Linked DNA regions of Homo sapiens. The gene in region 3 interacts genetically with the main gene of each other region. Each region holds a gene or a part of one and is shown on either strand. Other genes may lie near its edges.

Region 1 (3,141 bases), on a different chromosome or scaffold from region 3:
GGATGGGGATTATTTGAAAAATCAGTTGTATGTAAAATGCATTGTTTTTATTACTTTCTTTTCTAACAAATTAAATGAAACATCAGACTAAATTTGAGGTACATTTTAAAATAGTAAAAACATATAACATTATAGACATTTACTTGCCAAGATCAAATGTCATGATTCAATACTTATTTTCATTGTGAGCTAATGCCTTCACCTGTCTGTCTTAAGGTCAATTAATAAACAACCCACTTGCGAAGACCTAGGGATATACGTTGGTATGAAGGGCAGTGCTTCCAATAAGATTTCCCTTGAAATCTCGTTGTGAGGACAAAATACATGCATAAAAAGAACAGAAACATCAAGTTGATAATAATAACAAAAAGTTAAATAGTACTTACCATGGGCCAGACATAGGTCTGAGTGCTTTACAAACTTTAACTCATAGGTCTGAGTGCTTTACAAACATTAACTCATTAAAAGTTTGCAATAACATGGTAAGTACAATTATTATCATCCCATTTTATAGATGAAGGAATTGAGGCAAAAGTTAAATGTTGTATCTGGGGTCACACAGCTGGTAAGTGGAGAAGGCAGGATTCCAACTCAGACTGGCTATGGAGGCCACTTGTGTAACCAGCCACCACACTGCTTTGTGTATGTGGTGGCATTCACAGTAAAGGCAAAAGAGTCTAGCAAAGAAATGACCATAGTGGTCAGGGAAGGTTTTGCGGGAAGTGGGGCCTGAAACAGGCTTTTTAGAAAACAAAGGATTTAATCAATGGAGAAGACCGCATTTCAGACCTTCCCATCTCTATTGTGAGTACTTCAGAAGGACAATCTTTTGTTTTGGTTTCTCTTTTAGCACAATAAATATTCGAAGAATGGCAGAACATTGGAGGAACAAAAGTATTAGGCAAGAATGTAAATGGTTTCAGGAGTGGACATTGAGAAAACCTATTTAACTAAAGTGATGCCATCACACAGAGAAGTAGCAAGGGATCATGTCAGGAAAGTGAGTTAGGACCAGATTACAAATGCTCTGAGTACCAGGCTGTAGCCTCTGTGGTAGTGCTTCTGACACCCTAATCTTCACAGAAACCACTGGGGTCTTGTTAAATGCACATGCAGATTCAGTAGGTCTGAGGTGGGCCCAAGAGTCTGCATTTGCAGTAAGTTTGGGTGATGCTGATGTTGCTGGTCCCCAGACCACAGTTTGAGTACCAAGACTCTAGACAACAGCAAAAAACCATTTTGTGGCTGGGTTGAGGGAAAGGGATAGGGTAGTGATGGAAAGTTGTCTATGGCACCTCCCCTGAGTTGCAGCCAACGATTTGAAAGATATATAGACCTACAATATTTTATTGAATTTGTTTATAGAACCTTTTTCTATATGCCCCGTCCCTCCTTTCGGATGCAAAGCTGTCTTGCCTGAAGATATGTTTTAAACCACGTTTTTCCTCTCTTTCATACAGAGCAAGGCTAAAGAGCTACCTCTTTCTGCTGTACGCTTTATGGAAGAATTGGGTGAGTGTGCCTTTGGAAAAATCTATAAAGGCCATCTCTATCTCCCAGGCATGGACCATGCTCAGCTGGTTGCTATCAAGACCTTGAAAGACTATAACAACCCCCAGCAATGGACGGAATTTCAACAAGAAGCCTCCCTAATGGCAGAACTGCACCACCCCAATATTGTCTGCCTTCTAGGTGCCGTCACTCAGGAACAACCTGTGTGCATGCTTTTTGAGTATATTAATCAGGGGGATCTCCATGAGTTCCTCATCATGAGATCCCCACACTCTGATGTTGGCTGCAGCAGTGATGAAGATGGGACTGTGAAATCCAGCCTGGACCACGGAGATTTTCTGCACATTGCAATTCAGATTGCAGCTGGCATGGAATACCTGTCTAGTCACTTCTTTGTCCACAAGGACCTTGCAGCTCGCAATATTTTAATCGGAGAGCAACTTCATGTAAAGATTTCAGACTTGGGGCTTTCCAGAGAAATTTACTCCGCTGATTACTACAGGGTCCAGAGTAAGTCCTTGCTGCCCATTCGCTGGATGCCCCCTGAAGCCATCATGTATGGCAAATTCTCTTCTGATTCAGATATCTGGTCCTTTGGGGTTGTCTTGTGGGAGATTTTCAGTTTTGGACTCCAGCCATATTATGGATTCAGTAACCAGGAAGTGATTGAGATGGTGAGAAAACGGCAGCTCTTACCATGCTCTGAAGACTGCCCACCCAGAATGTACAGCCTCATGACAGAGTGCTGGAATGAGATTCCTTCTAGGAGACCAAGATTTAAAGATATTCACGTCCGGCTTCGGTCCTGGGAGGGACTCTCAAGTCACACAAGCTCTACTACTCCTTCAGGGGGAAATGCCACCACACAGACAACCTCCCTCAGTGCCAGCCCAGTGAGTAATCTCAGTAACCCCAGATATCCTAATTACATGTTCCCGAGCCAGGGTATTACACCACAGGGCCAGATTGCTGGTTTCATTGGCCCGCCAATACCTCAGAACCAGCGATTCATTCCCATCAATGGATACCCAATACCTCCTGGATATGCAGCGTTTCCAGCTGCCCACTACCAGCCAACAGGTCCTCCCAGAGTGATTCAGCACTGCCCACCTCCCAAGAGTCGGTCCCCAAGCAGTGCCAGTGGGTCGACTAGCACTGGCCATGTGACTAGCTTGCCCTCATCAGGATCCAATCAGGAAGCAAATATTCCTTTACTACCACACATGTCAATTCCAAATCATCCTGGTGGAATGGGTATCACCGTTTTTGGCAACAAATCTCAAAAACCCTACAAAATTGACTCAAAGCAAGCATCTTTACTAGGAGACGCCAATATTCATGGACACACCGAATCTATGATTTCTGCAGAACTGTAAAATGCACAACTTTTGTAAATGTGGTATACAGGACAAACTAGACGGCCGTAGAAAAGATTTATATTCAAATGTTTTTATTAAAGTAAGGTTCTCATTTAGCAGACATCGCAACAAGTACCTTCTGTGAAGTTTCACTGTGTCTTACCAAGCAGGACAGACACTCGGCCAGAAAAAAAAAAAAAAAAAAAAAACAAGCAAACAAAAACATTGTGGGATGTGCACTCCATTGGAGTGCATGACATGGCATTGGGAT
Region 2 (3,650 bases), on a different chromosome or scaffold from region 3:
CCAAACTGCGGCGCAACAGTACTGCCAGCAACGGAAAAGAAAAACAGGTATCGTGTGTTCCCCAATTCGGAATTCTCTCTCTCTCTCTTTAAGACAGTTAATGCTGTTACAGATGCTACTGATGCCAGGACAGGGCCAGTCACAAACAGTCCTACAGCTTCTCTGCTGTATAAATATGGAAGATTCTTTTGTTTATACAGTTTTACTCCAAGTCTGAAACTACATCTGCTGCTACCCGTTACTGCTAAGGCCTATGCCATCTCAGCTCTGGAACGAGGGGCTCGGGGTCGAGACTGGAATGTCGGGGCTCAGTCTTCTTCGCTGCCACTTCCTGAGCGGTCCTGGAGAGGGGACAGGAGGAGAGAGTGTGCGTTGGCCACCCCTGCCAGGGCACCTTGCCAGGGACCTGCCAAACTTTAAATAAACTTGCTCAAGAAAACACTGATGTGGGCCGGGCACGGTGGCTCACGCCCGTAATCCCAGCACTTTGGAAGGCCAAGGCGGGCGGATCACGAGGTCAGGAGATCGAGACCATCCTGGCTAACACGGTGAAACCCCGTCTCTACTAAAAAATACAAAAAATTAGCCGGGCGTGGTGGCGGGCGCCTGTAGTCCCAGCTACTTGGGAGGCTGAGGCAGGAGAATGGCGCGATCCCGGGGGGTGGAGCTTGCAGTGAGCCGAGATGGCGCCATGGCCATGCCCAAACTTCATGTTTCTCTACAGGACGAGTCCCTGTGACCACACTCGGCCCTCTCGGGACCTTCGAGGCTCCACGTGCCTTCCCTGCTCTGTCCCATGTCACCTGCCTGGCCCTTGGCCCCTGACCTACAGCTTCCAAACCATCTTGGTTCTTCCTGACTGTGAAAGATCTTTGCTCTTTCATATATATATATATATATATATATATATATATATATATTTTTTTTTTTTTTTTTAAAGACAGGGTCTTGCTCTGTTGCCCAGGCTGGAGTGCAGTGGTGCTATCACGGCTCACTGCAGCCTCGACCTCCCAGGCTCAAGTGAGCCTCCTGCCTCAGTTTCCCAAAGTGCTGGGATTACAGGTGTGAGCCACTGGACCTGGCCTCATAAAACCTTTTTAAACAGCCTGGCATGGGCCATAAAACACCCTGCTCTGGATTAGGCAAGAGAGACAGCATCACAGCCCAGACCCTCCTGCCTGACACAGGGGCCTCCCCTCCACATGAGGACTTCATGAATGTCCTCAAACGTCACGTGCGTCTTTCGTCAGACTAATTCCCAGGCACTGAAATTTGCTGCTTCTGTGATGACAAAATGGCATTCGCTGGGCTTCAGCGGGAGCCAGGCCCTTCGGTGGGGGCAGCCCCCTAATCCATGCAGCCTCCTTGCTTTGCATAAGAGGAAACTGAAGCTTGAGAAGCAAAGTGACCTGCCAGGTCCCACAGCCAGGAAGGGCCAGAGACAGAGGTGAGATTATTTAAAGCCAGCAAGTGGATCTTCTCCGGCTCCCCACTGCACCCCAAAAACTATCCACTGTGGTCTTGGCGTTTCTGCCCATTCTCTATGCCACTGAGGAGACGGGGCACTGTCTGGTGGGTCCCCAATCCTAGCACCTCCTACCCAACCCTAATCAAGCCCTGGCCTGCCCGGCCTCAGCCCAGGAGCCCTGGTGCCCTGGGACCGCCTGCTGCCTGTCCTGAGGACTCACGTGTCCCCCAGTCCCCAGACACCCACGGGTACTGAGAGCTGGTTCCGGGGTCACACAGGCTTGGCTTTGAGTGGCAGCCCTGCCACATACTGGCTGTGTGACCTGGGGTCAGCCATGGCAGGTCAAGCCTCAGCTTTCCCACCTGCAGCGTGGGGGCGTGGGAGCACCGCCCCACAGGGCTGTCCCATCAGGGCCCCGGGATGCCTCCTGCCACATGCCAGCTCTGCCTGCTCGGGGGCCCGGCCTCACCTCCTCTTGTTCCTCCTCACTGTCATCGTCACTCACGACCGGCTTGGCTCGGGACCCTCGGCTCGGCCGCCGCCGGCCGCCCTTCAGCCGGTCCTGTGCCTTCTCCTTCCGGCCAAGCTTGATCTTCACTTTGACGGACCGAGCTGGAGGGGACCGGGAGGGAAAGACAGCCTTGAGCTCTGGGAATGCAGCACCCCCACAGCAAGGGGCGTCTGGGAGCCGGGAGGGCTGTGAAAAGCTGGGGCCTTGGGGGCTCTCGGGCCAGCGTGAACCCCGGCGTCCTGAACCCCCCCGGGACTCACATTCGGATTCGGAGCCTTCCTCCTCGCCCTCTTCCTCCTCCTCACTCTCCTCGCCTTCACTGTCATCCTCCTTCTCGATTTTCTGCCGCACGCTGGTGAAGACCGACTGCAAGACGATGGAGTCTTCATAGATCTGGGCAGAGACACCAGGGGCTTGAGTGGATGGGCCCGACTGGAGGGCTGCCTGCCCGGCCCTGGCCCCAGCCCCAGCCCCAGCCCTGTGTTGCCCCTGGACAGCTGATCAGTGGCCAATGCGAGCCTCAGCGGGTCGGGGCTTCAGCCCACCCAGGGTGGAAGGCCCTCTCCATAATCTTCCTCCATAGGGGCCCGAGCATCAGACTTCTGAAATGCTCCAGGGTGAAAGGTCAGGCACACTGGTTTGGGAATAGCTGCAGGTGCCTCCCTCCTTCTGCACAATCTCTGAGGTCTGCAATAACATTGGAAATACATGCCCCTTGTTGAAGCCAGCATCTTTCCCAAACTCATCAAAGTCAAGTCTTTTTTCTGAGAGGAATCAATCCCAAAGACACTTAAGAAAGTTTGCCAAGTTGAGGCTGTGTATGTGTCAATTCTATCACAGGAAAGAACAAACCCACAGGATTCCTTTGAAGAGAATGTGCCCCAGGGAATTTAAAATAAAATTCCAACAGACAGAGGACTCTGAGTCTATTTCTTCTGTTGTGCCTATCTTTATTTTCTTCGGTAAATACATACTGCTTTTGTAATTGCTAAAATATCCCAAGTTGGAAATTTTTAATTTTTTCTTTTTTTTTTTTAAAGACAGGGTCTTGTTATGTTGCCCAGGCTGGTCGTGAACTCCTGGTCTCAAGTGATCCTCCCGCCTTGGCCTCCCAAAGTGCTGGGATTACAGGCACGAACCACCACAGCTAGCGGGACTTGTTTTTAACCCATCAATTCAGAAGGGAAGGAGGGGCGGGTTGGGTCAAAGCCCAGCTGTGGGAGTGGCCCATCCCCAACCCCCAGCGGTGCCCTCACCAGGGAGCCCTCCAGGTTGAAGGTCTGTGCGTTCTGGCACAGGAGCATGACGTCCTTCTCTAGGTCGTTGAGGCTGCGGTACTTGTGGTTGCGAATGCGCTCCTGCAGTGGACGGGAGGAGCAGGTCTTACCTCAGGACCCCGCCTCGCCTGCCCGCAGGCCTGGCTGTGTGCTGGAGACCCCACGGGCTAGGATTCCTCGTGCCTATGAGGATGTGGCCGAAGCGCCAGCCTCGGTAACCTGGCTCACTAGGCATGGGAACTGCATGACTGAGGCCCAGCACTAAGTGAGTGGGACCTTGAAGGAACACCCAACACCGACTGCCCACTGACATCCCTCAGGACACCCCCAACCCTTACAAGGAACCCCAAAAGCCCACGACCAGGTCCCTAACCAGGTAGCCCAAGGCACCGCC
Region 3 (3,422 bases):
GGGGACACCTCCCTATTACAGATGAGAACAGAGGGGACATGAACTCCTTGGAGGCAGGGCTGGGAAGGGACCCTGGGCTGTGTCTCCTCCCTGTACCGTGTCAACTCCAAGAGCTGGCACCAGGCCGGGAGGGCTATTCCCATATTCCTCACAGCTGGCTTGTAAGGCAGGAGCTGGCCCAGGCCACAGCACCTGCTGGGGTGGGAAAGGGCCCCAGCTGACCTGGCTATGGGTGCCACTGGAGCTAGAACAGCCCTCCTGCACCCAGGCTGGCGACAGCCCAGCAGTGCCCACACAGGACTGGGCCCTCCGCAGGGGACTTCAGAGCAGCAAGGCCCCAGCTGGCAGTAGCCTGACCATCTGGACACAGCAGAGCCAGGGCGGCCCAGGGACGGCAGGAGAGCTCGCGGCACCTTCCTGAGGCCAAGCAAGGGGAGCAGGGTTAGGGCTGTTCCTGAAAGGCAGAGAGCCTCTTGCCCTGAGCCTCACAGCTACTCTTCTCAGCTCTCTGGGTCTGGAAGGAGAACAGGCTGAGGGGAGCTGAGAGGAGCTGAGGTGCTACCCGGAGCCCCATTCACCCCCACCTGCCCACTTGGGAATCTGAGGCAGAGGAGGGTGAGGCCTGTGTGCCAACCTTGTTCACATACCACCTTCGTCCCCCCAGGCCCCGGCCCCACTCCTGGCTCTCATTATTTTTATGTTAAAACTTTGAAGAAATTGAACATGACCTGTTGAAGAAATTGAACATGACCTGTTGCCTTTTATTTAAAAACTGTTACTAGCCCTGCCTGGGGCTCCTATACAAAAACAAAACACAACCTAAAATAAGGTTTCTTCCTGACCCCAGAGACTGGGGAGGGGTAGGGAGGGTGGGGTGGGGGGCAGGACTGGGGCTCAACAAATGGAATGTGTGCCGGGAAGGGCCACCTGGAAGCCCCCACTCCACCCCCACCCGATCCTCAGGATGGCGCTGGGCTGTCCCCTCGCCTCTGTCCTTGCCAGAAGATGGAGGAGAGGCGGCCCAATCTTCTGAGATGCTCCGTGGGAGCCGTGTGCTGATGGGCTGGTTACCAGGCCGGGGCCGTGTTGGCAAGACGCCTCATCCGCCTGGAAGAGGAGTGGGGAGGGCAATGAGTCGGGGCCAGCTCCCAGCCTGGGCGCTGCCCTTCCCAAGGCTCTACAGGGCAGCCAAGTGTAGGGGTGGGAACAGAGGCAGGATGTGGGCCCCCAGCAGGGTCAGACCCAGCCTTCTCTCAGCCTCGCCTGTCTGCCACTCAGGCCCTGCTCATCACTCCAGGGACCCCAAAACCTGGATCTGGGCTGTGGTCAGACCCTCAGCCTGAGGAATTATGTTTGTTCCATGCAGGGAAACATACCCTGGCGTTTGGATGGGGCCTTATCACCCAGAAGCCTGCCTGCCTCTAGCAGCACTAGAGGTACTCTGTCTCAGAGACCATGGGAGACTGGGAAAGGCAATGGCCCTGCCTCTGCCTGGAAAGCCAGGTGCCTGTGGGCAGAGCCCAGGACCACAGGGCCAGGGGTACCTCGTGTTCCTGTCCTGGTCGCGGATCTTCTTCTCCATCTCAGCGTCTGTCAGAGTCTCCAGCAGTGGGCACCACTGGTCCGCATCGCCCGTGTTCCGGATGGCAATCTCCACTGTGGGCAGAGGGTTCTCGCTACGAGGAGGGGAGGCAGTGAGAGGAATGACTTTTCCAGCTATAGATGGAGAATCCTCAGAAAGCTTTGGCCCCTGTCTGTGCCCTGCTCCTCCCAGCAGCACTGCTGGCACCCAGTGGATGCTCCAGTCACCTGAACCTCAAGGGAGCTGCTGGAGGCGCCAGGGCCTTTCCATAACAAGTGTTGTCGCCATGACCCCATGGGCTTCCCTTCAAAGTGAACTTTCAACAGGGCTTTTGTGCCCAGCGTCTCTCTGTCTCTGAGATGGAGGAAGGGGCCACTGGCTGTGGAGGTGGTCCTTGACAGGACAGCACGGGCTGGACCATGCTGATGCCACAGTGCCAGTCAGGAGGTGGAACCTATAGGGGCAGGAGGACTGTCTGCTCCACTCAGTGTCCAGAGCCAGGGCCCACTGATCAGGGAAAGGGGATGGATGGCGAATGGGAGCAAAGGAGTCTCCCAGAAGTCCCCAGCCCCCCACTACTGAGGGCCACTGCACAGCCTGTTCCTGCATGTTCCACACACTTGCCCCTCAGCCCACCTCCTGGCCGAACAAAACCCCCGAGAGGCTGGTCTGTGCTTAGGATCAGACAGCTGTCTGGCAGGGAGCTGGACAGAAGCCGTATCCCCGGACCACACTCTGCCCTGGGTCTCACAAGGACCACCCAAATCTGCCCCGAGGTACCTTCCTCTTGCCAAAAGGACACAGCAGAGGAAGGGGGCAGCAAGGGCAGAGGCTAAACAGGCATGGGGTGGGCACAGGAGTGCTGGGGAGGTGGGAGGGTGGCTGGCTGCCGCCTCTCTGGGCTTTGATTTGCAAGTCTGTGACAGGACACTAAGGAGACCACAGCTGTGGATGCCACAGGGCCCGTGTGCCTCCCACATGCAGTGGTCCCGTCACCCCCACCTCTGAGAGCAGCTTTGGGTGCTGACAGTGTTTCCCAGTTGAGTGACACCAGACCCCTGGCTTGGCAGAAGGCCTCAGCCTGAGGTCCTAACCATGACTCTCCCACTTCCCCTCCCCTCTCTGTGGTCCTTTCCTTTCTCCTCCACTTGGGCACCTCCACTTGGCTCTCCCTAGGCTCAGTCCCCTGGGAGAAGGACACCCTGCCAGCCTGCGGCCCTGAAAAACACCATGAGCTCTGGGAGAAGCAAGGGCAGGCCGGACTCGGGGGAGGCGCCAGGTGGACACTGATAGAGAGGACAGGTCCCTGCAAACCTCATCTGGAATATGGAAACATTTATTGCTGTGAAGGGCTTTGGAAGGATGACTGTTATTAAAGCAGCCAAAACATCTCCACTGAGGGAGCTTCCTAGGGGCCAGGGACCTTCTCACAGCCTCCCTGTAGTGGGTGGCTCAAGGTTGTGGGACCAGCCTGCTTGCAGAGCGAGTCCCGGCTCTGCACATCCACACCAGTGAGCACACACCCAGCTCCAGTAGCCGTGAGCCCGTTCCAGGTTGGGCTCAGTGCTGCTCTCCTCAGCCTGGGGTCTCAGGGACTGTGGGCACAGCGCAGGGCACTGGCTGCAGCTGGCTCTCCCTGCAGCAGGCCTGACCCCTCACAGCTGAAGCTCAGCCCACCAGGTCCATGCTCATGAGTCGCAGAAGCTCAAGCTCGTACTGGTGACGCAGAGGCAGGGCCAGAGGCAATGTCGGCACCCCCACCCTCTGGGGCTGACCCATCCTCAGCAGCTCCTGACAGCTGGTCCCTGGCCAGCACCGGGTGGTTTAGCAGTCTAGGGAC

What was found.
Region 1: changes in SMARCB1 (region 3) and ROR1 together harm fitness more than expected from each alone (negative genetic interaction), as found in Homo sapiens cells (one large-scale study listed by BioGRID).
Region 2: changes in SMARCB1 (region 3) and SMARCA4 together harm fitness more than expected from each alone (negative genetic interaction), as found in Homo sapiens cells (one large-scale study listed by BioGRID).

What each region holds. Positions count from the first base shown.
Region 1 is NC_000001.11:64,175,968-64,179,108, forward strand, and holds part of ROR1 (inactive tyrosine-protein kinase transmembrane receptor ROR1 isoform 1 precursor), read left to right. Parts: intron 1-1,460; coding exon 1,461-2,888; 3' UTR 2,889-3,141. UniProt on the Homo sapiens protein: Has very low kinase activity in vitro and is unlikely to function as a tyrosine kinase in vivo. Receptor for ligand WNT5A which activate downstream NFkB signaling pathway and may result in the inhibition of WNT3A-mediated signaling.
Region 2 is NC_000019.10:11,058,475-11,062,124, reverse strand, and holds part of SMARCA4 (SWI/SNF-related matrix-associated actin-dependent regulator of chromatin subfamily A member 4), read right to left. Parts: intron 3,338-3,650; coding exon 3,236-3,337; intron 2,373-3,235; coding exon 2,240-2,372; intron 2,081-2,239; coding exon 1,938-2,080; intron 342-1,937; coding exon 309-341; 3' UTR 1-308. UniProt on the Homo sapiens protein: ATPase involved in transcriptional activation and repression of select genes by chromatin remodeling (alteration of DNA-nucleosome topology).
Region 3 is NC_000022.11:23,831,826-23,835,247, reverse strand, and holds part of SMARCB1 (SWI/SNF-related matrix-associated actin-dependent regulator of chromatin subfamily B member 1), read right to left. Parts: intron 1,677-3,422; coding exon 1,545-1,676; intron 1,108-1,544; coding exon 1,068-1,107; 3' UTR 422-1,067; coding exon of another isoform or gene 269-421; 3' UTR 1-268. Other genes in the region: DERL3 (derlin-3), read left to right, coding at 269-421.